Linked DNA regions of Homo sapiens. The protein of the gene in region 1 purifies or fractionates together with the protein of each later gene. This does not show direct contact. Each region holds a gene or a part of one and is shown in the gene's direction. Other genes may lie near its edges.

What was found.
Region 2: the proteins of CEP85 (region 1) and SOX13 purify together in Homo sapiens (affinity purification with mass spectrometry; 3 studies listed by BioGRID and IntAct, with this or other methods). This does not show direct contact.
Region 3: the proteins of CEP85 (region 1) and CEP44 purify together in Homo sapiens (affinity purification with mass spectrometry; 3 studies listed by BioGRID and IntAct, with this or other methods). This does not show direct contact.
Region 4: the proteins of CEP85 (region 1) and SOX5 purify together in Homo sapiens (affinity purification with mass spectrometry; 3 studies listed by BioGRID and IntAct, with this or other methods). This does not show direct contact.

Annotation. Positions count from the first base shown.
Region 1 is NC_000001.11:26,229,227-26,237,218, forward strand, and holds the start of CEP85 (centrosomal protein of 85 kDa), read left to right. Parts: upstream 1-4,973; 5' UTR 4,974-5,084; exon of another isoform or gene 5,085-5,422; intron 5,423-7,992. UniProt on the Homo sapiens protein: Acts as a regulator of centriole duplication through a direct interaction with STIL, a key factor involved in the early steps of centriole formation.
Region 2 is NC_000001.11:204,068,255-204,076,130, forward strand, and holds the start of SOX13 (transcription factor SOX-13), read left to right. Parts: upstream 1-4,860; 5' UTR 4,861-5,457; intron 5,458-7,876. UniProt on the Homo sapiens protein: Transcription factor that binds to DNA at the consensus sequence 5'-AACAAT-3'. Binds to the proximal promoter region of the myelin protein MPZ gene, and may thereby be involved in the differentiation of oligodendroglia in the developing spinal tube.
Region 3 is NC_000004.12:174,314,886-174,320,828, forward strand, and holds the end of CEP44 (centrosomal protein of 44 kDa), read left to right. Parts: intron 1-1,280; coding exon 1,281-1,405; intron 1,406-1,644; coding exon 1,645-1,682; intron 1,683-2,449; coding exon 2,450-2,498; 3' UTR 2,499-5,443; downstream 5,444-5,943. UniProt on the Homo sapiens protein: Centriole-enriched microtubule-binding protein involved in centriole biogenesis. In collaboration with CEP295 and POC1B, is required for the centriole-to-centrosome conversion by ensuring the formation of bona fide centriole wall.
Region 4 is NC_000012.12:23,540,649-23,547,673, reverse strand, and holds part of SOX5 (transcription factor SOX-5), read left to right. Parts: intron 1-1,249; coding exon 1,250-1,358; intron 1,359-4,289; coding exon 4,290-4,463; intron 4,464-7,025.

The DNA of each region.
Region 1 (7,992 bases):
TTGAGCCCCAGAGTTTGAGAGCAGTCTGGGCAACATAGTGAGACCTTCTTGAGACCTTCTTCTCTACAAAAAATTTAAAAATTAGCCAGGAACCTGTAGTTCCAGCTACTCGGGAGGCTGAGGTGGGAGAATCACCTGAGCCCAGGAGGTCAAGGCTGCAGTGAGCTGTGTTCCTGCCACTGTACTCCAGCCTGGGTGACAGTAAGACCTTGTAAAAAAAAAAAAAAAAAGCTAAATTTAATTTAAATTTAACAGTCTTAATATTTCATTTGCAGGTTGGCCGGGCACGGTGGCTCACACCTGTAATCCCAGCACTTTGGGAGGCCGAGGCGGGCGGATCATGAAGTCAGGAGATCGAGACCATCCTAGCTAACACGGTGAAACCCCGTCTCTACTAAAAACACAAAAAATTTGCCGGGCGTGGTGGCGGGAGCCTGTAGTCTCAGTTACTCAGGAGGCTGAGACAGGAGAATGGCATGAACCCGGGAGGCAGAGGTTGCAGTGAGCCGAGATCGCGCCACTGCACTCCAGCCTGGGTGACAGAGCGAGACTCCATCTCAAAAAAAATAAATAAATAAAAATAAAAAAAATAAAAAATAAAAAATTCATTTGCAGGAACATTTTGTTGTCTTTAATGCCTTAACAGCTCCTGAAAAAAATCATGTCAAATGATCAATCCATGTTATTTTTTCATGCACATCAAAGTCACACATTTATTAAATCAGCAATAAATTACATTTCATTGTGAATTCATATTGACTTTATACGTCTGTAGTAGACTTTAAACAGTCCTGCTATCAAAGGCATTAGCCCTTGCCGTTATTTAAAATGTATCCTGGCCAGGCACTGTGGCTCACGCTTGTAATCCCCACATTTTGGGATGTTGGGGTGGGCGGATCACCTGAGGTTAGGCATGCAAGCCCAGCCTGGCCATAATAGTGAAATCCTGTCTCTACTAAAAATACAAAAATTAGCTGGGTGTGGTGGCAGGTGCCTGTAATCCCAGCTACTCGGGAGGATGAGGCAGGAGAATTGCTTGAACCCAAGAGGTGGAAGTTTGCAGTAAGCCGAGATTGTGCCATTGCACTCCCGCCTGGGTGGCAGAGCAAGACTCTGTCTCAAAAATAAATAGATAAAATATATCCTGAGGGAAGAAGGGAAGTAGAAAAAATATATACATATATATCTTGAAGGATAAGGACAAAATATTGACTCCGCTTAAATATCTCAAAAAGAAAATAAATGAAATAAAATTAAGTAAACAAGGAAGCTATTGCATTTAAACTAAATTAGTTGACCATGTTAAAGAAGCCTCAGTGCTGTGTAACAATAGATGCTTATAAAATAATCCACCAGACCACACAGTGCATATGAAAGTGATAACTCTAATTATATGATTGTAACTAAGTTGCAATTTTTTTTTTATACTGAGGTGGGTCACATCTGGACTAACCCTGTCCCTTTTCAGTCATTAAGTCAGTGTACTTGATATATTTTATTAAAATATTCAGTGATATGATTTCGCTGTGTCCCTACCCAAATCTCATCTTGTTCCCATAATCTCCATGTGTCATAGGAGGGAACTGAAGGGAGGTAATTTAATCATGGGGGCGGTTGCCCTCATGCTGGTCTCATGAAAGTGACTTCTCACAAGATCTGATGGTTTTATAAAGGGCTTTTCCCCTTTTTGCTGGGCACTTCTCCTTGCTGTCACCATGTGAAGAAGGATGTGTTTGCTTCCCCTTCTGCCATGATTGTAAGTTTCCTGAGGCCTCCCCAGCCCTGTGGAACTGTGAGTCAATTAAACCTCTTCCCTTTATAAATTACCTAGTCTCAGGTATGTCTTACCCAGTGAACATTAGTCTGTTCTCACCGTGAGAACAGACTAATACATCCAGCTAGTCTTTTAAAAATAATAATGTAACTGACAATTTAAGAATATCTTATATTGGCCAGGCGCTCACACCGGTAATCCCAACACTTTGGGAGGCCAAGGTGGGTGGATCACAAGGTCAGGAATTTGAGACCAGACTGGCCAACATGGTGAAACCCCGTCTCTATTAAAAATACAAAAATTAGTCAGGCATGGTGGCGTGCGCCTGTAGTCCCAGCTAATCAGGAGGCTGAGGCAGAAGAATCGCTTGAACCCGGGAGGCAGAGGTTGCAGTGAGCCGAGATCGCTCCACTGCACTCCAGCCTGGGCGACAAAGCAAGACTCCATCTCAGAAAAAAACAAAGAATATATCTAAAGAGGTTGGTCATGAATATTCTCTGAAACTAGGACCAAAAGTCTCTGTTAAAATATAAATGAGCTGAGAGTGGTGGCACATGCTGGTAGTCCCAGCTACTCTGGAGGTTGAACGGGAGGATAGCTTGAGCCCAGGAGTTTGAGCCCAGCCTGGGCAACATAAAGAGACTCCTTCTCAAATGCATGTGTGTCTGTGTGTGTGTGTGTGTGTGTGTGTGTGTGTTCCTCCTTTGAAACAATTTTCCAGTCTGATTCTTCAAGCTCATATTAACGCAAATGGACTTAATGGTTCCTTTTCCTGGGGACTAAGTTTGGGGAGGAAGGCAGGACTGATTCCTTACCCTTCAAACTAAACCCTGGTCACAGGCTGACCAGTGCCTCCAACCCAGACCAAGCCCTGACCCTAGCCTCAGACTGTGCAATAACCCTGACTAGCATATATGTATATATATACATATGACAAGTCATTCACATTTGAAAATTGGCAGTAGGGCCGGCCACGGTGGCTCACGCCTGTAATCCCAGGATTTTGGGAGGCCAAGGCGGGCAGATCACCTGAGGTCAGGAGTTCGAGACCAGCCTGGCCAACATGGTGCAACCCCGTCTCTACTAAAAATACAAAAATTAGCCGGGTGTAGTGGTGGGTGCCTATAGTCCCAGCTACTCAGGAGGCTGAGACAGGAGAATTGCTTGAACCTGGGAGGCAGAGGTTGCAGTGAGCTGAGATCGTGCCACTGCACTCCAGCCTGGGTGACAGAGCAAGACTCTGTCTCAAAACAAAACAAAAAAGAAAATTGACAGTAGATAATGGAATTACTTTTAAACTATAGATATCTATTACAAAGAACTGTACAAATGTACTGTTTGCTATTTGTAAATTTAAATCTCAACACTTCCACTATGTTTCCAGTCGGATTTCTCTTCTATCCTCTGTATCAGCAATTCACATCTTCCTAATTCTTCTCAGTCCTCTAGATGCCCCTGTTCCCTCCCTCCTCACATATGCCTTTCACAAAAGAAATGGAAGCCTTTCAATGTTTTCTGACTCTTCTTTCTCTTTCTTTCTTTCTTTTTCTTTCTTTCCTTCTTTCCTTCCGTCTTTCCTTCTTTCCTTCTTTCTTTCAGAACCTCGCTCTGTTGCCCAGGCTGGAGTGCAGTGATCTTGGCTCACTGCAACCTCTCCTCCTGAGTTCAAGTGATTCTCTTGCCCCAGCTTCCCCAGTAGCTGGGATTACAGGTGCCCACCACCACACCTGGCTAATTTTGTATTTTTAGTAGGGTTTTATCATGTTGGCCACAGGCTGGTCTCAAACTCCCGACCTCAAGTGATCCACCTGCCTGGGCCTCCCAAAGTGCTGGGATTACAGGCGTGAGCCACCGTGCCCGGCCAGGACTAACACTTTCTAGCTTTCTACCCTTCAGTCCATAAATTTATTCATTTAGACACCCTGTCTTAACATTTTTTTTTTTAGCCTTTACGTTAACAGAGGCTTCTGGTCCTAATTTCATATCATACCCAGGTTCATTTTCATTATCCATTAAATCTGCTATTTTATGTCTTCTATATTCTTATCTTAAAATACTAAAAGAGAGGACAAAGGATACAACCTTGGGGCACATCCCTAGGGTCTTTCCTCTAGAGTGACTTTTATTCAGTAATGAACTCACTTTGTCTGGCTCTTAAAGCTAAGAAATTATACAACTTTTTTTTTCCATACAACTTTTTTTTGGAGTGCAGGGGCACGATCTCGGCTCACTGCAACCTCCGGCTCCCTGGTTCAGGCGATTCTGCTGCCTCAGCCTCCCGAGTAGCTGGGATTACAGGTATGCGCCACCACACCCAGCTAATTTTTGTATTTTTAGTAGAGACGGGGTTTCACCATATTGGCCAGGATGGTCTCGATCTCCTGACCTCGTGATCCGCCCTCCTCTGTCTCCCAAAGTGCTGGGATTACAGGCATGAGCCACCGCGCCCGGCCTCCTATACAATTTTTTAGTATCTCTCCCTGCCAAGTCAGGTTTCTAGATACCCAGAATTTCACTATCTGAGATTCATTCCTTTGGCTGATGGTTCTGTTCTCCTTTCAAACAATTTTCCTGTCTGACTCTTCAAGCGCATATTAATGCAAATGGACTTAACAGTTCCTTTTCCTGTGGACCAAGTTTGGGGAGGGAGGCAGGACTGATCCTTTACCCTTCAACCTGAACCTTGGTCACAGGCTGACCACTGCGTCCAACCCAGACCAAGCCTTGACCCTGACTAGTCAGTGACCCAGGCCACACCCTAACTCCTGGTCACAACCTGAACCCCTGCTTCAGGTGTGAGAACTGATAGACCGGCGTTGGAATGGAAGGAGGGTGAGGCAAGCTGAGTGGGATTCTCGTGTCCCCAGCCCCGCCCGCGGGCCGCCAGCTTCCCAACCTGCACAGGCCCAGCAGGGCCCCTCCAGGTCTAGGTGAGCAGAGCTCCACCTACAGGTAAAACGCGGCAAGGGGCAGAGAAGGAGCCAAGTGGCGACGTGGTCATGCGCAGAAAGATCCGTCCGGCTCTCTGAGCAGAGGGTAGCGTGTGGGGGCGGGATACCGACGCGGCTCGGCTGCCGATTGGTCAGAAGAGGATAGAAAGGGGCGGGAAGCCGGCGCGGCTCGACTCCCGATTGGCCAGAGGCGGCAGAACGGGGTGGGGCCAAACGACGCGCGTTCTGTGGCGCGCGGCCTGGCGGGCGTGCAACGGCCGTTAGAGGAGCTGAGGGAGGGAACCACCGCTCACCGCAGACGTGGTGGCTGCAGTCAGTCTTCCCGAGTGAGGGATTTCGCCGCCCGCTTTCAGGCCCGTGTAAGTTTTCCTCCTTCGGGAGCCTCAGTCCTAGTGGCCGACCTTGCCTCTCCTCCCATAGCTCCGGCGAAGCCTCAGACGCTCGCGACCTGCCACCGTGAGGGGCCGGGGAGAGCGAAGCGCATGCGCCTCGGCTCCGAAGCCAGTGCCCCGGCATACGCCCTCTCGCGTCCCATTCCCCTCGCTTCCCCCGTTGCCTTGCTTTGCCGTCCGTGGTTCACCCCACGGCAGTCACTTTACCTGCGTGCCAGGCCCTGTGCCGATAGCCAGGGACACAGCGAGCGGCGCATTCCTTGCCCTTGCGGAGCGCACAGCCCTGGGAGTCGACGTTAAGCGGGGTAATCCCTCGGCGCGCAGTGAGGGTAGAGTGGAGAAATCTTACAAAGAGCGCAAAACAGAAGGCGCGGATCTAGTCGGAGAGGTCAGGGAGCCCTCCCCGAGGAGGAGAAGTTTGAGCCGAGATTGGAAGGCTGTGTAGAGAATTAAGGTTGTGGGACGGAAAGCACTTGGCGGGGCCTTACCCCGGTACTTCTCGGCCGGGGCGATTTTGCTTCCCTGGGGACATTGGTCGATGTCTGGAAACACTTTTGATAGTCACAGCTCCAGGGCTTGCTACTGGCATCTAGTGCGAAGAAGCCAGGGATGCTGTTACACAGCCTACTGTGTGTAGGACGCCCCCAACAACAAAGAAAAATCCCCCAAAATGTCAGTAGGGCGGAAGGTGAGGAAGCTTCCTTCAGCGAGAAGGAGCTGGTGCTTTGGTTGAACTGAAAGTTAGTGTGTTCAGGTTTATTTGTTCAACAGTATATTCAACGCTTACTTCACCTCAGTTAATGAGAGCGATCCTTTACACCAGTACATTCCCAACACGTGGCTCAGAGCCAGGCGCATAGTAGGCACGCAGTAAATTTCGGTTGATGAATTGAACACTGGGATAAGTAGGGGGCGGTGGTGATACAAGGACGATGAAGCTAGCCAGGCCTCATTTATTTGCCCTCAAACCTTGTCTGCTTTATAGTGATCTGGTGGTTTTGTATGTCTCACGACTTTTCTTTGTAAAGGCAACTTCTTGTCAAGGATTTGGCTTCTCTTTCACAAGGTTTAATGAATGATCAAGGCGGTGAAAATAGTGTAATGGTGTGAGATCCTTCGTGTGTCTGTGTCAGCTGTCTGTGTATCCCTTCAAATCCTCTCTTGTCTTGATGTGGTTCTCTTAACAGCTGCCAAGCATGATGTTCCACACTTAGATTGTAATTCTTTTTTTTTTTTTTTTTTTTGTGAGACGGAGTTTTGCTCTTGTTGCCCAGGCTGGAGTGCCGTGGCGCGATGTCGGCTCACCGCAACCTCCGCCTCCCAGGTTCAAGCGATTCTCCTGCCTCAGCCTCCCGAGTAGCTGGGATTACAGGCATGCGCCACCATGCACGGATAATTTTGTATTTTTAGTAGAGACGGCGTTTCTCCATGTTGGTCAGGCTGGTCTCAAACTCCCGACCTCAGGTGATCCGCCCGCCTCGGCCTCCCAAAATGCTGGGATTACAGGCGTGAGCCACCACGCCCGGCCACACTTAGATTGTAATTCTTATAGGGGAAAAATACTTACGGCAGTCAAAATCTAATTCTTGGGTAGCAACTTGAGAAATAAAGCCTAGGTGATGACCAAGGACAAAGTGAAGAAATTTTATGAGCTTTTACTGCTCATATAATTGAGGCTTGCAGCTCTAGCTGTCTGAGGCAGAAACTCCAACTTGTGGTGCCATGCTTGATCTCTTTTTTTGTGTTTTGTCACATGTAGAATGCTGACTAGACTACTGTAGCGTTAGAGTACAGTCCTGGCTTTGAAGCCTCTTCCTAGCCATATGACCTTCACTACTGTAAACCTTTATTTTCTCATCCATAAAATGAGGATAATAGTAACTGCCTCATAGGGTTGATGTGAACATGAAACATGAGACATGATACTTAAAAAGTGTTGAGCACAGTGTTTGATAGGTAGTAAGTGCAGAATGCATGTTAAATTTGTTGAATGAGTGACTGTTTCTGTAGTTTAAAGGGCTTTGAAGATGGAAACCAATCCTGTTGGGTGCTTTTTTTTTTTTTCCCCTCTGTCTGCCTCCATTCACTCCCTTTCTAAGCTTTATAACTGGTGTGTTACTTCTTGTACATTCACTTCTCTCATTTTTATCCCAGGAAATTTCTGTCTCCTTCAGTTGTCCCAAAAATTTCCACCAGTAGCTCATCTAATTCTTAAGTCAAGAATGATTTATTTTGTATTGTTTTACTCCTTACGGGGTTTCTTTCTTTCTGTTTTTCTTTTTTGAGATATTTGTTGTCAATGAGGGTCAGACTCTGAAATATTTGAAGGGATTTATTCTGAGCCAAATATGGGTGACCAGTGGCCCCTGACACAGCCCTCAGGTGATCCTGATAACGTGTGCCCTGGTTTTAAACATTTTAGGTAGACATGAGACATCAGTCAAATACATGTAAGATTTACATTGATCTGGAAGGGTAAGACAACTCTTAGTGGGTGGGGGCTTCCAGGTCATAGGTAGATTTCAAAATTTTCTGATTGGCAGTTGGTTGAAAGTTGTTATCAATAGAAAGGAATGTCTGGGTTAAGGTATCCTGGGGATCAACATTTTATTGTACAGATGAAGCCTCCAAATAGTAGGCTTTAGAGAGAATAGATTATAAATGTTTCTTACAGACATCTGTGTTAATGTTAATGCTTTTCCTAAATTCCAGAAGGGAGGAGGGTATAATGAGGGGTGTAGGACTCCACCACCACTACCACCATCATGGCCTTAACAGGTTTTTCAGCTTAACTTTGGAATGCCATTGGCCAAGGGGAGGGATCCATTCAGGTGGTTGGGGATGTCTTAGAATTTTTTTTTTGGCTTATATCACA
Region 2 (7,876 bases), about 180 Mb from region 1:
AGAGACATTTTTGTTGAGACAAGAGGATGAAAAGGTGCCCACTCTAGGAAGAGGAGGGTTTGGGGAAGAACTTAACAGGTGTAAAGATTTTTATCGGGTTTGAAGTCTAGTTCAAGGCAGATCTTTCAATATGGGGATCTGATTGGGACTGGGCAAAATTTATAACAGTTTAGGATTGGAGGACATGGTGAAGGGAGGGTCTTGAAGAATAAACAATTGTTTGATAAGCTACTGGTTTGCCCAGTTAAGCAAACTATTGTCCCGAGAAGGGGGCTGTTTGAGCAGTCTATTGTTCAGATAAATTGATTTTCAGGAAGTTCCTGAAGGAAATAATGAAGTTATTTACCAGTTTACAGTCTTATCTTCCTGGGGAAGAAATTTCTGGAACAAATATTAAAGTCATGCAGATGTAGGCAGCCTCAGTGAAATGATGTCACCGCAGGTGAGGCCGTTGTAGTCTGGCTGAGTGGTAGGTAATTGTGGCCTGGACTAGGGTGGGGTGGTAAAGACAGGAATGGATGGATTGGGATATATTTTTGGAGATAGGCCAGTGACTCACTAAATTGATTAGATGAGCGAGAAACAATCACAGATGATGGCTAGGTTTTTGACTTGAGCCATTAGGTAGGTGGTAGTACCATTTACTGGATGGGAAAGAAGATGGTACTGGGTTGGGGATGATGGTTAAAGGTTCAATGTTAGGGTTAGGATGTGGAAGCCATCCTCACAGGGTTAGCAAGTATTACATGCTAGGTTCTGGGCGGAAATACTGTTATAATTTAACCTTAATAGGCAAGTGCGGTGGCTCACACCTGTAATCCCAGCACTTTGGGAGGCCGAGGCGAGAGGATCACTTGAGCCCAGGAGTTTGAGATTAGCCTGGGCAACATAGCAAGATCTTGTCTCTACACAAAATGAAAAACAATTAGCCAGGCAGGGTGGCTCATGCCTGTGTATGTAGTCCCAGCTACTTGGGAGGCTGAGGTGGAAGGATCACTTGAGCCCAGGAGGTTGAGGCTGCAGTGAGCCGTGACTTCACCACTGCACTCCAGCCTGGGTGACAGCAAGACCGTGTCTCAAAAAAGAAAGAAAGAAAGAAAAAGCATTAATTAGGTTGCACTTTGGCGCACTTCCTTGTTGCTAAAAGTTCCATAGAACCAGATACTGACCATTTGCATCCCCATTTTTCCTATAGATAGGATTTCTGATGTTAGAATCATAAGGCTTTTGTTGAAGAATCGATTTGCATCCCCATTGTTCCTATAGATAGGATCACTGACGTTGGAATCATAAGGCTTTTGTTTAAGATTTGCTTAAGATGTTTTTAGCTCTTGAGTTCCAGCAGAATGGCTGATGCCACCAGTTTGAAGACCCTCACAGAGGAGCGTAATCAGCATGAGAATGCAGTTTCTTCATCTCCCTGTCCCGTGACTCTGCGTCACGGGACATCCACAGTGATCCCCACACCTCGGCCCACTCCAAACCCCTTAAAATCCCTAGCCCCCAACTCTTCGGAGAAGCAGATTTGAGGTTTTCTCTCCTCTCCTTGTTCAGCCTTGCATTTAAAATTCTTTTTCTGTTGCAACCCTCGGTGTTGGTGTATTGACTTGCAGGCCCTCAGGCAATGGACCCATTACGGTTACAATGTCTGTGAGGCCCTGGGGTAGAAACATCAAGTGTGTGGTTGGATAATAGTCTTGGATATTAAATAATTGGGAGAATCATCACCACATAGTTGGTACTTAAAGCTATGGAAAAGGACAAAATTTTACCTAGGGAGATGTGGTAGGAGGAAAATAGGGTGTAGGAGAGAGCCCACAGGGAATGCCCACCTGGAGACCAGGATGGAGGAGGGAACATAAAAAAGGGTGGCTGGGAAAGAGCAGCCAGTGAGGTGGGAGGACTCAAGAAAGTGTGGACTCATGAAGTGAGTGTTTCAAGGAGTGGCTGACTGGGTTACATCATGTAAATTTGATAGTTGTTCCTGGGAAATGGTGCAGTAGTAGAGAAAATCTAGAATCTTCAGTCAGATAGCTTCCTGTCTCACTAATTGGAGCTTCATTTTTCTTATCTCTAAAATGGGATTCCAGGTACTCAGGGACTTGCAAAGAGATGGAATTAAATTAAATTAAAAAATAAGATAAAATGGGGATAATGACACCAACATCACAGAACTGGGATAAGGTACAAATAGATACCATATAGGAAAACAGTATTGTGCCTAAGACCCAGTAGGGAGACACTTTATATCTTAATTTGGTGGCAGTGAGTGGAAGGGCTGATCTTTGCTCTTCCTCTCTTAATCTGCTGTTGCTAAGGACAGCTGCAGGGAGGTACCCACAATCAAGTTGCCCCCCTGAAGATGATCAGGGGCCAGAGAAAAACAACCAGATATATGGAAAACACAGGCATGTTGTCTGGGAGGAGGAAAGTCTTGGTGGCACTTGGGTACCCTTTTTTTTTTTTTTTTTTTTAGACAGAGTTTCCCTCTTGTTGCCCAGGCTGGAGTGCAGTGGCATGATCTCAGCTCACCACAACCTCCGCCTCCCGGGGTTCAAGCAATTCTCCTGCCTCAGCCTCCTGATTAGCTGGGATTACAGGCATGAGCCACCACGCCCGGCTAATTTTGTATTTTTAGTAGAGATGGGGTTTCTCCATGTTGGTCAGGCTGGTCCCAAACTCCCGACCTCAGGTGATCCTCCTGCCTCAGACTCCCAAAGTGCTGGGATTACAGGCGCGAGCCACCGCGCCCGGCAATTTGGGTAACCCTTTCATGATTTCTAGGATGGCTTCATCCATAGTTATCCAAACATCAAGCCTTTAATGTTGGCTTCTCCCACTCTCTTACACCCACCTGTTTTCTCCTTTCCATTCCCCCTACTCCCAGCTTAGCTCAGGCCTGCATCATTTTTACCCTGGCCACTGCCATTGTCTGGTCACTGGCCTCCTTCCTACCTCCAGCTAGATTGATGCCATCTGAGACCTTGCTTAGAATCCTTCAGTGGCTCCCCATTTCCTTCCATCAACAAGTATTGATCAATAAGTATTTATGAAGGGCCTGCTCTTTCCCAATCTCTGGCTAGGCACACTGGAGAGATACATCCCTGCCCTTGTGGAGCTTACAGTCCAGGGCGGAGACAGACAAATGAATGGTTACCATATTATTTACAAATGGGGTTTTTCCAGAGCCCACAGATGGGGCACCTGGCCCAGATATGGCCATCAAGAAAGGCTTCAGGGAAAGTTGATGTCTAGGCTGAGACCTAAAAGATGAATAAAAGGAGTTAGCCAGGCAAAGCAGTGGGCAAGGATGAGCCCTTAGAAGGCCTTCAGAGCCTTGCTGACCATCACCTTTGAACACATGCTGGCCACCCACACTGTGGGCATAGACTTATTAGTAGGTCCATGATTGTCACTCCTTTAATCTGCCCTACACCCACAGGTCCTTCCAAGACCCATTTCAGATGCCACCTCCCCCAAGAAGTTCCAGTCCCCATATCCCAGTGTCTTTGGTGGCCCTGTGCCCATTTGCCTGCCCTATCTTAGCCCTCTCCACTTCACTGCAATGGTATATTCACCCATTCCTTTACAAAATCAGAATCCAGAAAGGGCAGGACACCGTCTCATTTGTCTTCGTGTCCCCAGCACCCCGGTAAGCCAGGCATAGGTAGACTTTTTTTTTTTTTTTTTTTTGAGACAGAGTCTTACTCTGTCACCCAGGCTAGAGTGCAGTGGTGCGATCTCCACTCACTGCAACCTCTGCCTCCTGGGTTCAAGCAATTCTTCTGCCTCAGCCTCTTGAGTAGTTGGAATTACAGGCATGCACCACCACACCCGGCTAATTTTTGTATTTTTAGTAGAGAGGGGTTTTCACCATGTTGGCCAGGCTGGTCTCGAACTCCCAACCTCAGGTGATCTGCTGCCTTGGCCTCCCAAAGTGCTGGGATTACAGGCGTGAGCCACTGCGCCCGGTCATATGTAGACATTTGATAAATACGTTGAATGAAAGGAAACCAACTCTCCATTCTCCCCCACCCTCCCATATAATGGGACAGGAGAAAATAAGATTTATTTGAGAGGCTGCAAATGACAGGATTAGGGAGTGGTTGGAGATATCAGGAATCCGTCTAGCTACAGGTGAGATCAGGTTTTGTTTTTTTTGAGACGGAGTCTCGCCCTGTCGCCCAGGCAGGAGTGAGTGCAATGGCGCGATCTCGGCCCACTGCAACCTCCCACTCCCGGGTTCAAGCGATTCTCCTGCCTCAGCCTCCCGAGTAGGGGGTTACAGGCGCGCCACCACGCCCGGCTAATTTTTTGTATTTTTAGTAGAGACGGGGTTTCACCGTGTTAGCCAGGATTGTCTCCATCTCCTGACCTCGTGATCCGCCCCCGTCGGCCTCCCAAAGTGCTGGGATTACAGGCGTGAGCCACCGCGCCCGGCAGAGATCAGGTTCTTAAGGGAAGTCCGGAGAAATGGGGTTTTTAAAAAACCCGAGTCCAGGCTATCTGTTTGGAGGGGTTGGGAGGCTTGGAGCTGGACCAATAACTTCTTAGGTCTTGCTTTAAGGAGTGAAGATTCTCTGTAGCGACCCTCATACCTGGGCAGTGGGAGCGGGCAGAATCCTTCTTTCTTCTCTTCTCTACACCCCCTCACTCCACCCCCACCCTTCCCCGCCGCCCGTAAACCTTAGCTTTCCCCTTTCCAACAGAGGTTTCCAGCTGTTGATGCCTGGATGGACCCGGCTGCAGGGAGGAGGAGGAAACTCTCTGTCCCTCCCTTCTTCTGCAAGTCCCCACCCTCCCTCCCTCCTCCCCCTGCGCGCTCTCGGTCTCCCTCCCTCTTTCTCCTCTAGGCTGTCCAGTCGCCTCGCAGCAGCGAGCCGCGAGCGCCCTTCTCCAGTCCCGGCTTGGAACTGAACTGTGTGAGCACGGGTCCTGGAACCCGGGCCCAGAACCGGCGAGCCCAGGTCTGAGCCCAGAGCTCAGCGGTCAGCCTCGTAGGCCCTGACTCGGAATCGAGCCGAGGCGCTGAGGTTGGAGCCGGAGAGCGTGAGAGCCGAAGAGCAGGGAGGGCGGGCCGGCTGCGCGTCCGACGAGTCGCAGAGCAGGACCGCGGAAGGCAGGGAGACGGCCGCAAGCCCAGGGCAGAGGGCAGAGGGCAGAGAGCGGCCTGGCTCGGCGGAGAGGGCGCCGCCCGGCCGGAACCAAGCTCGCCGCCCGGGACGGCGGGCCCCGTGGGGCGCGGACCCAGGGTGGCCGTGGGTCCGCAGCGACTCCCCGGCCGACGGCGGGGGGCGTGCCCCCTCCCAGCCCAGCCTCCCCAACCCGGCCCGCCCGCCGCGTCGCGGGGGCATGTGAGCGGGAAGCCTAGGCTGCCAGCCGCGAGGACCGCACGGAGGAGGAGCAGGAGCGCGGAGCCGCGAGCCCCGAGCCCCGAGCCCGGCGCCTGGCTGAGTAGTAAGTGCACCCCTCCCCGCCATGATCGCGCCGTCGCGCCCATTTCCCCAGCTCTCTGAAGTTTGACACTTGCGCCCCTACGTTTCTGGGCACCCACCGGCTCTCTTCCCTGCGAGTTTCCACCCTGTGCAAAGTTTTTCGAGGAGAGACGGACCCTCACCTACCCCCAACAACGCTGGGCAGTGGCGGCTCCTCCCTGGCCGACTTGGGTCCTTGTGGAGAGGGATGGCAGCCTCTAAGGCAGTGCGTGGCTGTGTGTGTGTTTGTGTGTGTGTGTGTGTGTGTGTGTACGCGCGCGCGCGCGCGCGTTCACCACGCGGGTCGAGCTTAGGGTGCACCCCCAACCCGCTCCTCGCCGACCGCAGAGGACTAGGTCTTTCTCATCAGCCCGACTATGCGCCTAGTTTAAGGATTTCTCAGCGGGAAGCCGAAGCGACCTGCGCGCGTCCTGCGTGGGGCTCAGGTGCCTGCGACGAGGCGCAGAGCTCCTCCACCATGGTTGCGTGGGGTGCTGGGGGACAGACGCGCTCCCCTTGCCACGGTTTCAGGGTCGTTCCCCAGCGGACCAGACCAGCGCGGCATCCTGTTTGTTTTCTGCTCCGGCTGCTCCTGTCCCACCCCCACCCCCACCGCAGGCTGCTTCTTGCTACCCCCACCTCCCGCCCTGGGATATCGTAGGTGAGCCTTTTCATCCCGATTCCGCTGCAAACGCTGATCGCGCCTAGGGGTAGGGAGATGCGGAGCGGGTAGTCGTTCAGTTCCCAGCGGCTCGCCATTGTTTTCCCACCCCGCGCGTTCCGTACGTAAACACACACGCACACACAAGGTTGTGTGTGTGCGCCGGCTCTGGCTGCTTCCCGTCCCCAGGCGCGCAGGGATCGCCCGCGGGATTCGCTCAGCTGCCCGCATGGGTCTTCAGGCTGGAGGCGCTCCAGGACTTAACTGGAGCTGGAGAGGACAAGAGACGTGGGGGTTGCCGGACAGTACCGGGCGGGGCGGTGAGCCGGGCCTGGGCGGGAAGTGAATTTTGAACTTCAGCCCTGGACCTTTCCGGGAGGACCCCGAGCGCTGGAGCGGCGGCTCCCGCCCTGGAGGGCCCGCGGCAGCTGCAAAGACTCCGCTGGCGCTCTTGGCAGCCGCCTCGGTGACAGAGGCTTGGAGGAAGCCGAAGAGTTTTCCTGGGAAGTTTGCTTTGACTCTCTGGGAATTTCCGGGCAGGACGCCTCGGCGCTGGCGCTGGCGCTGGCGCTGGTGAAGGGGTCTGGCCAAAGACGGCCAGAGACGATGCTGCTGGCTCTTGACCACTAGGCTGTACTTGGCTCTCAGCAGTCCAAGTAGGTGGGTCTCTACCTCCCGGAGTTCATGCCTTCCAAACCAGTATCCCCCAAAGGATCACGACATGCCGGTTTCAAAGATGGGTGCATAACTCTGCTCGTTTTGGAGTCCAGGGAGGCAAGCTCGGTTCCAGCCGGGCGGCGCTCTCCGTCGAGCCAGGCCGCTCTCTGCCCTCTGCTCTCTGCCCTGGGCGTGGGGCTGTCTCCCTGCCTACCGCGGTTGTGCTTTCGGACTCGTCCGACGCGGCGCCAGCCCGCTACCTCCCGCTCTCCCTCTCCCCCGCTCCCTGGCTCCCCGGCTCCCTGACTCCGTAATCTGCGCCTCGGCGCAGTTGCGAGTCAGGGCCTGAGGCTGACCCCTGTTTCCACTGTGCTTCATTAGAAAGCGCTTCACAAGATGCTGGGATTCAGCACATTTGGATTCCAGTTCCCCATCGATGAGCAGCGTGGGTTTGGACTTCCCCGCATGCGAAATGGGCAGAGTTATGCACCCAACTTTGAAACTGGCATGTCGTGATCGTTTGGGGGATACTGGTTTGGAAGGCATGATCTCCAGGAGGGTAGGGACCCACCTACCTCTGGATCATTAAGGGCCAAATATAGCCTAGTGGTTAAGAGTCCTGGAGCTGGAGTTAGATCCCGGATGCCACTGGCGGTGTGACTCTGGGCAATTTAACTTAACCTCTGTGCCTCAGTTTCCTCAGCCATAAAATAGGGTTAATATGAACGCTTCATGGGGTTGTCTTGAGGATTAAAAGACTTAATAAAGTGAAACTGAGAACAGTGCCTGGCACATAATAAGTGCTAGGTAAATATGAGCTATTATTGCCATTATTACTTAACTGACCTTGTACAGAGCCCAGAAGAGCACTTGGTGATTGTGCTCAACTAATCAATTATAACATTGCCCACTTCTGGAGAGGAGGAGATCTTGTACTCTCTCCCACCCTTGCCTGATTCCAGCCCCTCAGATCAAACGTATCCTTCTTACTCCTTGTCTAGTGCCATCTTCTCGAGTCTTTTTTCTTTTTCTTGTTTCCTTCCTTTCTCCCTCCCTTCACAACTTTTGTGAAAGCATTTCATTC
Region 3 (5,943 bases), on another chromosome or scaffold:
AATTCCAGTTCAAAGTGTGATGAGTCAAATTACATTCTCTCTCTTAGCATTTGGAATTAGGACACCACGAGTTAGTTAGTCAAATGATATTGAGCCTGGGCCGGGCTGGCCATGTGGTGGAAGTTTACGCTGATGAGTCAGCAGAGAAAGCCATTCTACAGAGAAGAGCTGAGGGATGGAGCAAATGGCAGAAGTAGGCAAAAGAGACTGTGGCTCTATGAGAGATAAAAATTAGTCTTCTAGTTGTTTCAGTTCTCAGTGGTAATAGTTTGTTCCCCAATTAAGGTTGTCTGTGTAGGCTTACAATAAAGCTCTCTTTATGTGAACCAATTTAAATGGGTGTCTAATTTTTTTTTTTTTTTGCATTGCTTTTGCAGCCAAATGTATTCTGACTGAAACACAGGGTTTGTAGGATTTATTACATTATCCGTAATCTTCTCTAATTGATATTTTTGTAGGGGAGATGCCATCATTTTGTCAAATTAATATTATCAGGATATTTGAAATGTTAGGTTTTTCCGTTTTTTAGAAAAAGAAATCTGTGGATCTTAAATTTTTGCATTACTTATTTTCATATATGTCAAATCAAGTTAGAATGTTTCTTGATTTTTAAAAGATATATATGGTCAGTTATAGTAATAGTTGTCACTTGCCACAGAACAGTAGTAAAAAAATTTGTGAAATGCTTAAATGTTGCTGAATAAAAGCATCATGACAAATTCATGGATACTAATTATTTAATGTAAATATCACCATTTTAAGAAAAGAATACGGTGAAACCCTGTCTCTACTAAAAATACAAAAAATTAGCCGGGCGTGGTAGCTGGCGCCTGTAGTCCCAGCTACTCGGGAGGCTGAGGCAGGAGAATGGCGTGAACCCGGGAGGCGGAGCTTGCAGTGAGCCGAGATCGCGCCACTGCACTCCTGCCTGGGCGACAGAGCGAGACTCCGTCTCAAAAAAAAAAAAAAAAAAAGAAAAGAATATACATGATTGATTCAATAGGTTATATTTTAAAATAAATTATTAACTTACCTGTTTATTCAAACTGATTGCTATCATGATAATAATACTGCCTTTTGTAATTTTTATTGGGCAATTTTTAACATCTAGATCTCCATATGAAAGCTGTTACCTTAAGAGTACTAAAAACTCTTTGATCTATGCGGATAGCCATTTTTAATTAAAATAGTATGTTTTTCTTCCATCTGTAAATAATATTTTTAGATATTTGACTCTTCTGTGAAAGGAAAAGGTAATCTAAAACTTAATTTCTTCACAGACAGAAAAAGCGAAGTAGAGAGGCCAGCAAGTATTCCTCTGTCCTCTGGCTATAGTACAGCATCATCAGATTCAACTCCCAGAGCCTCTACTGTTAATTACTGTGGTTTGAATGAGATTTCAGAGGTAAGAAAATGCTTAGATTATTTCCTTTCTAAATGAGGAAAACAAGCAAGCATTAGCTTTTGTTGTAAATATTGCTAGCAAGAAAAATAGCAAACGCGAATCTTAGTCTCTCAAAATTCTTTCATAAGTAAACAGTACTTAATGCAATGTTTCAAACTGTGTTTTGTACATTCTCGGTCCATCTTTGATGATGGTTTACTTTGAGAAATCATCTAAATTTGTTGCTTTTTAAATTAAAGGAAACAACAATCCAGAAAATGGAAAGGATGAAAAAAATGTAAGTAACAGAAAGGGGCAACAGAAATTCATTTCTCTATAGGGAATTGTATTGGATTACAGTATATATAGAATGTGCATGTGTGTTTCAAACCTTAAAGGTCTCTCAATCAGGTGTGGAATTTCCTTCAGGACTCCACTGGATAATAAATCCACCTACAGTTATGTGTTTGTGAGATGAGTCACTGTTTTAGTTTCCAACAAGCGATTTAAAACTTGTTGGAATTGTTAATGGAATTAACTGCAGAGAGAATACAAAGATATTTTTGGTTGGTAACTAATCAAGAGTATTATCTATTTTTGATAACTGATTTATCAAAATATTAAATAATATATATAGATGGATGGTTTGGAGACATTTTCAGTGTTGTGAAAATATCACTGGTGTTTTTCGGCAAGTTATTGATGAGATACTAAAAATGATGTTTTTGTCTAGTACAAATGGTGTGATTTTTCTAAAGAGCAGTTCAAAGGAAATATGAAATGAAATTGCATATAAGATGATTATGCAGCCTACTACTATAGAAAATTATAATATTATTTAGAAATGCAAAAAGTACTTAACTTACACTTCAAGAATATGACTCATAATCGACTCCTCTTTGTCTTCCCTCTGGTCATACTTAAGTTTATTCATAGTAACTGTACTTATAGATAAGAAAAATATTCAAATTTATTTTAGGCTAAAAAGCATAATTTCAACAACTAAAATGCTATGCTTTATTATGAATTATTGATTTACTTAATATATTATTTATTATATTTCAGGTTTGAAGAAACTGCAGAGTTACTGAAATGTCCAAATCACTACTTGTAGGATTTTCTACATGAACTTTTTTCTAGGACTTTGGTTACTATACATATTGTATATTTTAAGAATTCTTTATACAATTTTAATATACTGCAATACTGCAGTTTTTGACAATTTGGATTCCATTTGGTATATGAATTTTTGCATTCATTATTGAATAACTCTTTTAATATTTTTGAGCAATGATTATACTGCTTTACCTTGTGTCACTTTTTTTTTTTTTAGGAAAAACTCATGTTCCAGTATATTTCTCTTACAGAGTGAAGTCATTACAGCACTGTATTTCTGTGTTGACATTTGTTGGCAGTGTGCTAAGTAATGTTTTTTAAAGCACAGGCTTGAGGACTATGGTTTACATCCTGTTGGAAACATTCCAAATGGGACTTGTGTATTATACCCAGGAGGCTCTCATATATACCATCTTGGCATCTGTACTGATGAATAAGTTATAATGAACAGTTAAAAATGCTCATTGAAAATTAAATAAAACAAAAAGGCAGTTATTTCATGCTTGGTCAAAAACATCAATACCTTTCCAATTAACACTGAGAAATTAAGGTTAAGATTCTCCTTTTGTACTGGGAAACAGGCTGGAGGACTATGGTCCTCAAGTTTAGACCAAGAGGACTATGGTCTCAAGGTTCACCATGAGAAATGTGTTGAACATTTTAGTATGCTCTATTGTATAATTTTTTTGGAGGGGGGGATGGAGTTTCGCTGTTGTTGCCCAGGCTGGAGTGCAATAGCACGATCTTGGCTCACCGCAACCTCTGCCTACCGGGTTCAAGTGATTCTTGTGCCTCAGCCTCCTGAGTAGCTGGGATTATAGGCATGCACCACCATGCCCAGCTAATTTTGTATTTTTATTAGAGACAGGGTTTCTCCGTGTTGGTCAGGCTGGTCTCAAACTCCTGACCTCAGGTGATCTGCCTGTCTTGGCCTCCGGCGTAACACTTTTTAAGACCAGTGTAACAGAAAGAGAATGTAGCCATTCTAGCCACCGTTAAAAGATACACAGTGAGGTGTTGTGTTTTGTTTTTTTAATGATGAAAAGTTACACATTTTTTGGAGAGAAAAGTCTTAGCTGAAGGTAAATCAATGGAAAAATGAAATTTATTTTTAATATTACTACTATATGAATTATCTTTTTTTAAACTTGTAGATAAAAGTGTTCCAGTAATCAGAAAATCCTCAAGAAAATTGACTTCATTATTTGGAAGGAAAATTAGTATTTTTTTTAATATTATATGGACCATCTGATTATATTTTATTTATTCATCTATTTATGGTATGTATGTATAATTCTATATTACACTGTCAAATATAAAATATTGTTATATGAGTAGAAATCACTTAAATTTTTTTTGTGTTTGTGAATTTGAAACAGTGTAAGAAATCACTTTTAAGAAAACATTTTTAGAATTCCTTTGTTTTTTTTTTTTTTCTTTTTGAAACAGGGTCTCACTCTATTGCCCAGGCTGGAGTGCACTGGCGTGATCTCGGCTCACTGCACCTTCTGCCTACCGAGTTCAAGCGATTCTTGTGCTTCAGCCTCCTGAGTAGCTGGGACTATAGGCCTGTACCGTCATGCCTGGCTAATTTTTGTATTTTTGTAGAGACAGGGTTTCACCATGTTGCCCAGTCTGTTCTCAAACTCGTGAGCTAAAGCTACTCGCCCACCTGGATGTCCCAAAGTGCTAGATTCCATGGGTGAGTCACCATGCTTGGCCACATTTTTAGTATTCTAATAAACAGTTGGTCATCAGAACTTTAAAATGGTAGCCTACAGAAACATACAATTTTGAATTTAACAGAGTTTCAGTAAATATTTCCAGAATTAATGAAGCATGTTAGCTTTAATTTTTTCAATTGTGAGAGAAGTACATTTATAAAAATTAAGAGGTTAAGAGGTTATAGTTATAAGGGAAAAAACTTCTGTATCGATTAACTCCTAAAATATCAGTACCAGCATGGAATTATAGCACCACCTTGTGGTTAACATGCCAGTATTTTACCTTTTGTTAAAACAAGTGATTTCCCATCAAACAGGATAATATTTTTTCCCTTTTGAAAAATTCAATTTTAAAAAGAAACATTTTTGAAGTTTTCTTATGGAAGATAGAAAAAAAGTTAAGTCTCTTTCTACCCTTTCTTTTTTTCTTTATATAGTGCAGATATACACACAGAGAAGGGACTTAAAACATTTCTAATCTCCTAGTTTATATACAGTGTGCAAAATATAAGTAAGTATATATTGAAAATATAAAATATTTCATATATGTTATCAGGTGGAAATTTAGAATCCAAATTTTCTTAAACTTTAATAACTTGTCTAACAACTCTCTAATAGGGACTAAAAATCAACTCAATATATCATACATTTACACTTACAAAGAGTCTTTATCTAGACAACATAATTTTTGGAAAAATAAAGCAAATTCAACTTTATTGGAGTTATTGGACAGATCAGCAAATTGTTATTTTAAAAAGTTTTCTTGTTTAGGCAATTTGGTAAGTGGTTTCTAGTTATAAACTAGCCACTGTTGATTAACTTGAGAAGGTGAAGCAGGGGAGTTCTGAAGAGATTACCTAGAGCTACATAACCCTAAGTTAAGTAAAATTTTCACTTTCATTCTTTTCATTCTCTCATAAACTGGTTGAAAAAACACTGTACTACCAACAAAGGTGTCAGTTGCTTGTGCTGCCCTGTCTATGTTATGCTCTGAATAGGTCTCGGTAAAGATTATATGGAAATACTATAAAGAATACATAAGGTAAAATACTAGTCAGAAAGGGTTCAGAAGAAGTTAGCATCAACTGTATGAAAATTCTAGGTAAAGCTAAGTACTATTGAGTTGGAAAAAAGTAATTCTATCATGTTTGCTTGTTTTCCTCTACTGTTTTTAATGTGATGTTGTAATATATTTTAAAAATAAAACTTGAAAACGTTGGGACTTTGTTTCATGCCATTCATTACTCATAACTTTATATAATTGATACACTCTTCAGGAAGCATAAAAATTAATATAACCTTCTCAATTTTATAAACTACAACACTTTTTGAGCTCAAATAACATTGTAACTTTGATTTTTACTTTTTAACAGTCCCCAGGTTTGTCTCCTTTCTTTGAAACTGAAGGCATCAAACTGATCAGCGTGGAAGGAAGTGATGTTTATCTTAAGTCCTAAAGAGTGAACAGAATATAGCCAGGGAAGATGGTTTACGCAAAAGGACTAGCATAAACAAAGGCTTGAAAGGAAGAGCATTTGAAAGAAATTCACTAGGGCTAGCATACTGAGTGTGCTCTGTGTGTGTGTGTGTGTGTATGTGTGTGTGTGTGGCTAGAGGTCAGTTGACACAGGCCCAAGGGGCAGCTTGTATCTTATTTACTGAACCATTTAAGCAGCAGAATATGATAACCAGATCTGAGTTTTTGAAGGATTTATTTTA
Region 4 (7,025 bases), on another chromosome or scaffold:
TGATGAATAGAGTACAGGAGTTCCAAGGCCACTGACTTAAGAGATTTTTTAATTTAGTATGTACAGTTGTCACATTGTCAGAGACTTCATTGAGATAAAGCATGTACTGTGTTAAGAATTTCAATATCTCATTAGTTCTTGGTGGGAACATTAGTTGGGCCCTTTACCTGTAATACAATTATCTTACATCATTGATTACTTTCTGTGAACATTTTATTGTGTCAATAGCAGTTCTGCAGTGTATGTCGTTCACTAGTATGATTCATGACTATGTTCCTCAGAAAATGAGGTGAATAATTATAAAGAAACTTGAGATAATGTTATGAGATCCAATGGATGCATTTCTTAAAACTGTTTTGGTGCTGTTTGGTACTACATCATCCTCAGAGCAGTGCTGGAGAGTTCACGAGAAAGTTATCAAGTTTCATTATATGCTTTTTCTGTTCCTAAAGTCACCCAGTTTCTTAATTTGACAGTAATGTCTCATATGGTTTAGATTAAGCATTATATTTTTCTTAAAAATAATTTATTTTGAAATGCTATGTTCTCCATGAATGTGAATCGTGCACTGCATGCTTAAACAACTTGATGTCTCTGTAGATCTAATTTTGGTATATTTGTATCTCAAATAATTCGCCAACTCAATATTTTGGCTTAGCAATCCAAATCAAATTGTGGTCCAAGTAGCAGGCACTCACATTGGATGTACAGAGACTTGACAAGCAATTAGCAATGAATATTTAAACGTCTTCATTACCCTTGCATGAGGAATGCAGATGGCATTTGGGAAGATGGCAACCAGAGGGCACTACTGTGAATTATGTTTCTATTATTTGGTCACCTGACTATTGGAAGACTTTCTCTGGGCTTCACGCCACTCCTATACTTCTACTGTCTGGCCAAAAATAAAGCAGACATTCCAAATGTAAAACAGGTTGCTTCCATGAAATTTCTGTGCACATTTTGTAATTTGGGAAGGTTGTCTCCAAGGATCCCGGCATATATCCCTTAGGCATACCAAACCCAAACGCCAAGACTTTATAGGGGTCTATGAGAATCAGAGTTCCTTCAAAAATCGTGCTGATCATCCCCTTAATGACTTCAGGTTAATGTGCTGAACGTAAAAAGGTGAATATATCAACATTGCATCCTTTCCAGGAGTTAATGTATTATATATGTGGCCCAAAAAAAGAAAGTCTTCAAATAATTTTAATTCCTAGACTGATCTCTCATTATAATTTTTTTAAAGGAAAAAACAACACTGGAGAGTCTGACTCAGCAACTGGCAGTTAAACAGAATGAAGAAGGAAAATTTAGCCATGCAATGATGGATTTCAATCTGAGTGGAGATTCTGATGGTTTGTGAAAATTGTTCATACATATTCTAATAATGCAAGAAAGTGTCTAGGTAGTGCCAATTAAAACTGCTAAAAAATAGACTAGACAGCCACCTCATACCTCATCATTACAATAAGAGGTCACATATACTGAGCAGTCCCCATGTGCCAAGCACTCTGCTGAGTGCTTTGCAGAAATCGTCTCATTTAATTCCTAGTCAACCTAGGATAAGTCCCATTGCAGAGAAAGAGCCTGAGCCTCAGGAGTTTTGAAGCATTTTCCCCAGGTCACAGGGCTCTAAGTGTCAGAGGCAAGAATTAAATTCGAGATGGCATGATTCTAAAGCAAATGCTCAAAATGCTTAGCTTCCCAGGCTCAAGTGATCCTCCCACTTTAGCCTCCCAAGTAGCTGGGATTATAGGTGCATGCCAACATGCCCAGCAATTTTGTTTTTTTTTTTTGAGATGAGGACTTACTTACTATGGTGTCCAGGCTGGTCTCAAACTCCTGGGCTCAAGTGATCCTCCCACCTCAGCCTCCCAAAGTGCTAGTTTTATAGGCGTGAGTTACTGCATGCGGCCTCACTTCCCTATTTCTTGTACCCAAAATGAACTTTTTCAGAAATTTGTTTCTATTGGCTCATTTTTTAAGTTTCTATTTGTCAAGCCCTCACCAGAATACATGGCTCAGAGGACATTTCCACGATAGTTTCTTACATTTTGGAACCCTTCTCCCTAGTGCTATGTACTACATAGTCAAGTGTCGGGCCCACTCTCTATAACCTAACTAGAAACCAGCTGCACAGCTTTATGCTCCCTTCTCATAGGCCTTCAGACTTCTGTTTTCTGTATCATCTCTGAACATTCTAAACATCCACAGTGAGAAGAAATTAAATTGATACTCTGATTTTTAATAGCGTAGCAAAGAGGGAAAAAGAAGGAAGTGCTGTTCTTCTTATACAATACCCTGACCGGGAACATCTCTCTACTGTCAGGTGGCATCCATGCATTTTAAGCATTCCTTTGGCAGTACCGCCCTCAACTTTGTTACTACTACAGGGAAGTTCCCTGCATATAGAGAAGAGTGCACAAAGGCAAACCAGTGAGATGCATACTTTGAGAGGGGGTCCCCTTGAATCCTCCAATATACACAACTGTTTACTCTGTGCCTTGGGCCAATTCTACTTTTAAGACCAGGTCTATACTAATCAAGGGACTAAACAAACCTGAACGTTGAAACACGTAATTCTATCAAAACTGAATTTTACTCAATTGGATTCAATTTGCATTTTTCTGGGTCTAATGTTGCAAACATTTTCTTCTATTTTCAGCTCCACTTAGCTAAGATAAACCTAGCCTATGTACATTTAAAGAGCTTGTTTAGATTTGATGAAGACACATAATGTTCATTTTATTGCTTATGTTGCTGTAAGGTGTAAGAACAAGAAAAGGCAGATGTGCAAATGATCACTTGCTAGTTACAAACCCATTTTAGGAAGATGTTGCCATATATTTGCACTTATTTTGTCAATAAAAGACAATTACGGGTAATAACACATTTCATAAATTTTAAGTTGTATTAGCATGATAAAATATACCCACAGTAATCAGCATTAACACATCAAAGTTTTTGTTGCTGTCATTACCTAAATTCAATCATGCTTGTATGTGAAATATTTTCTACTTTTCATTAAATCAAAGAGCATGTTATTAATGAAAAATATTGAGAAACTTCACCAACAGGTATGCTATGTTTTGAATGTGCTGCTATAGAGGTCTTCAAGTTTGGGCAATTTTGTTTGATTCCTGTGTCTCCAAATTTAAAAATAAAGAAAAGATGAGGAATGAATACAAAGCAAGAAAAGAAAAGCAGTGCTTTTGTTGATAATACAGTCTCTACAAGTCCCCAAAGTATTTTTAAAGTTTTGGATACTATCAAAATACATCTACTTATTTTGTGATAATACCCAGTGAAAACCTACTGTCAGAGTTCTACTGGTTCTCCTTATTTTCTCTTTGCCTAAACTCAAGTATCTTGGAAGCAATTTAATCTGCTGAAGCCATTCTAAGGGGTCACATAAGGCTGGAGGAGTGAATGCAGCTTCCAAAGCTATCGTTGTTAACTCTTGAATTGTGTTTTATCATCTGTGAATCTTACTGATTGAAATGTGACTGTCCATGGGACTCTTTGGATAACTTTAAATATTAGGGGGAAAATTCAAAGGAAATTATTATTTTTCTCATCTTAAACATGTGACTGTAGACTCCTTAAGAAACTAGAGGAATGTAACTGTTCATTTGTTCTTTTCCATACCAGTTTTACATATATTTTGGGGGGCAGACCTGTCATTGCTGTATCAGCATATGTCATGCATTTGTCAGCATATAATTTCAAAGAAAAGCCAATTATATTACAGGGAAATACCTATATTGTTTTTAACCTCAAAATTTGGTCAGTGTTTTTATTTTTGTAACCTCGGAGAGAGAAAGAGAACATAAGGTACTATATGTTCAGACAGTCTTTAAGTAGCAAAGATATATCCTCCCCTATAATCATCCATTCTGCCAAATTGATTTGTGCTTCTTTACCTATTTAATGTTTCTACACTACTGGTATGCCTGTTGATTTAATCTGACTATCCTCTTTCCGAATTGCATCAAAAATCACATATCGGAGTTTATTTTGAGCTGTTGAAAGTAAATGGTGAAACAGTCCATTGAAAGAAAGAGAAAACAGATTAGAAATTGGTTAAAAATACAAATATAACATTTGCCACCACAAGGCTTATCAGAAAAACTTCATAAACAAGCATCTGTCTTAAGAACTGGAAGTACCATTATCAGAAGTACTTTTTCTTTTCAGATATCTTAATAGACTGAAAAATAGGAATGCAAGGAAAAGAGCTGACAAAAGTTTTAACGCTAACACGAAGTGATGTTTCCTGTTTTCAGGAAGTGCTGGAGTCTCAGAGTCAAGAATTTATAGGGAATCCCGAGGGCGTGGTAGCAATGAACCCCACATAAAGCGTCCAATGAATGCCTTCATGGTGTGGGCTAAAGATGAACGGAGAAAGATCCTTCAAGCCTTTCCTGACATGCACAACTCCAACATCAGCAAGATATTGGGTAAGAAAACCATTAAGAACTAAGTGACGTATGGAATAAAGGTACTGTTCTGTTTTCTGCAGTTGTGGAAGGATCCTGGATTTGGAGGCCATACAGGTCGTGTTATTTGCTTATCCAGAAAATAAACATCATCATTGAGGCTTCTTCTGGTGATGAAGCATTCTATGTCCATTGAGAAATATGCCATATTTCTATAGCTCATGTAGCTGTTTGTCTTCATACTAATTATTTTAATGCTTTATCTTCTTCAAAAATCTAGAAATATTTTTACTAAAGCTGAGAAAAAAGTTGCTTTCACATGAGCCACTAGATATTGCTACTGATCATTTGTATTCATTTCCTTGCATACTATAGACAACTTACTGTTAATCTTAAGGCCTCCTTCCTCTCTCATCATCCTCTGTAACAGAAGGATAAGGAGTTTTATTTGCGGAATTCATCTTGTTGTGGGGGTGAGGGTGGAGGTGGGGAAGATGTTTGTTCCAGTGCTATAATTGAAAATCAGTTTTAGATTTTCAGAACACAAGAAGATGTAGAGTGTACATTTTTACATTTATACTTTTAGTAACCTTAAGTACTAAAGGTACTTTTAGTCATACTAAATACTTTTCTGCCATTGCAACATTCAATTGAACAGAAAACAAAGTACGCATTTACTCTACCCACACAGAGACTGTAGCACACAGGAAAAATGGTTGGGGAGAAAGGGTGCTGATTATAAAGATACCTATTATAGACCAGTTCAGGTCCCAGGGGGAAAAAGAAAAAAAGAAGATTCCATTGCTTTTGTGCCTTATCTGACATCATTATCACTGTCATTGTCATTCATCACTGTCTGATGGCCAGATACTAGACAACCTAAGAAAATTTTGATGATTCACTCTGTGACTTCTAAGAGTTAAGTGACAAAAATAGAATAGAAACATTTTATCAGAAAATGTTGGTTTTAACAAATAAGTAACAAAATTTGTCAAAATTATTAAAGTTTTATTAGAATTCGTAAGGCACTTGGAATTACACGGAGTTTATAAAAATAGTATCACTTTTGATTCATTACAGATCATCTATAAATGGCAAACATATGCATGAGGTTTTGTTTTGCAGATGGAGTCTCGCTTTACCGCCCAGGCTGGAGTGCAGTGGTGTGATCTCGGCTCACTGCAACCTCCGCCTCCCGGGTTCAAGCAATTCTTCTGCCTCAGCCTCCTGAGTAGCTCGGATGACAGGCGCGGGACACCATGCCCAACTAACTTTTGTATTTTCGCAGAGAGAGGGTTTCACCATTTTGGCCAGGCTGGCCTCGAAGTTCTGACCTCAGGTGATCCGCCCACCTTGGCCTCCCAAAGTGCTGGGATTACAGGCATGAGCCACCACGCCCGGCCGTATGTTTTTATGATCCCATATTCTCAACAAAGATAATAGATGCCACCTAGTCCACAAGGTGCATTTGTAATGGGATCAAAACAAACCATTAGCCACTTAAAATTGTGTCTCATTTTTCACCTAAATGTTATCTAAAAAGACATGAACATGCAAAGCTTTCAGTAGTATACATAGAAAATATGAAAATCTGTGTGTAAAAATATATATCATGCATAATCAAAAACTTGAACTGATCAAGAGGAAATACACATTTTTTTACATCTCTACCAGCTCTGATCTATTTTTCCCTTTTGTGACTATATTTTTTGTGACTATATTCTACCTTCCATGTGAAATTTCCTATCTTTAAAAAACAACATACCAGTTTCATTTGGGAAAACTCTAGAAAAGAATACTTTATGTAAGCATATTTCATGTTTTAATATATCAGTTATTCCCAAATTAGAAATCCAAAATTGTCAGAATAAAAACCAAGTTAAATACTAAGATTTCAAAACTGTCTTTATATTATTCAATTCTTGTGTCTGAATACCAAAAAGGTGATAATCATTAATTAAAACTATCTTAACTATAAGAGAAATATCAGTTTTGATGATAAGAAATGATATTTTAGGAAATGTAGCAAAAGTATCTATGGAAAAGAGATGACTGGCTATGAGAATTCCCTTCTGATTTGAGGGAAAGAATATTAGAATGACCATATGATTATATTATAATAGACAACATGAAAGAGAATACTGCCTAATTTCAGTCTTTCTGATGAAAATGTATTCTTTAAAGATATAACATTTATATTTAGGAACAAATAAAACATTGAGGTATTTTGGGCTCAATATTTAGTCACAGCTTTAAATAAATAAGTGATCTTCAAATATCCACAAGATCATTCTAAATGACCCATTTCATACAAAAGTACAAAGAAAGCTTGATGTTTTCCTCTTTGCTGATTGTTTTGGATAACAGCCTCCGACAGCATGCCGCTAATTCATTCTGCTTAAAACAGGCGCTTGAGCTGGGTTGACATTTTACGTAGTCTCTGGGGATCGTAGTTGACATTTTAAAGGGCTTCTAAGCATTTTATAATACCCTAAAATCTGGTTTTAATAAGCCATTCTGCTGAAATTGTTAACATAAGGAATCACCTTTTACTGCTTGGCGCTAGATCAGGGGAAGAGGGAC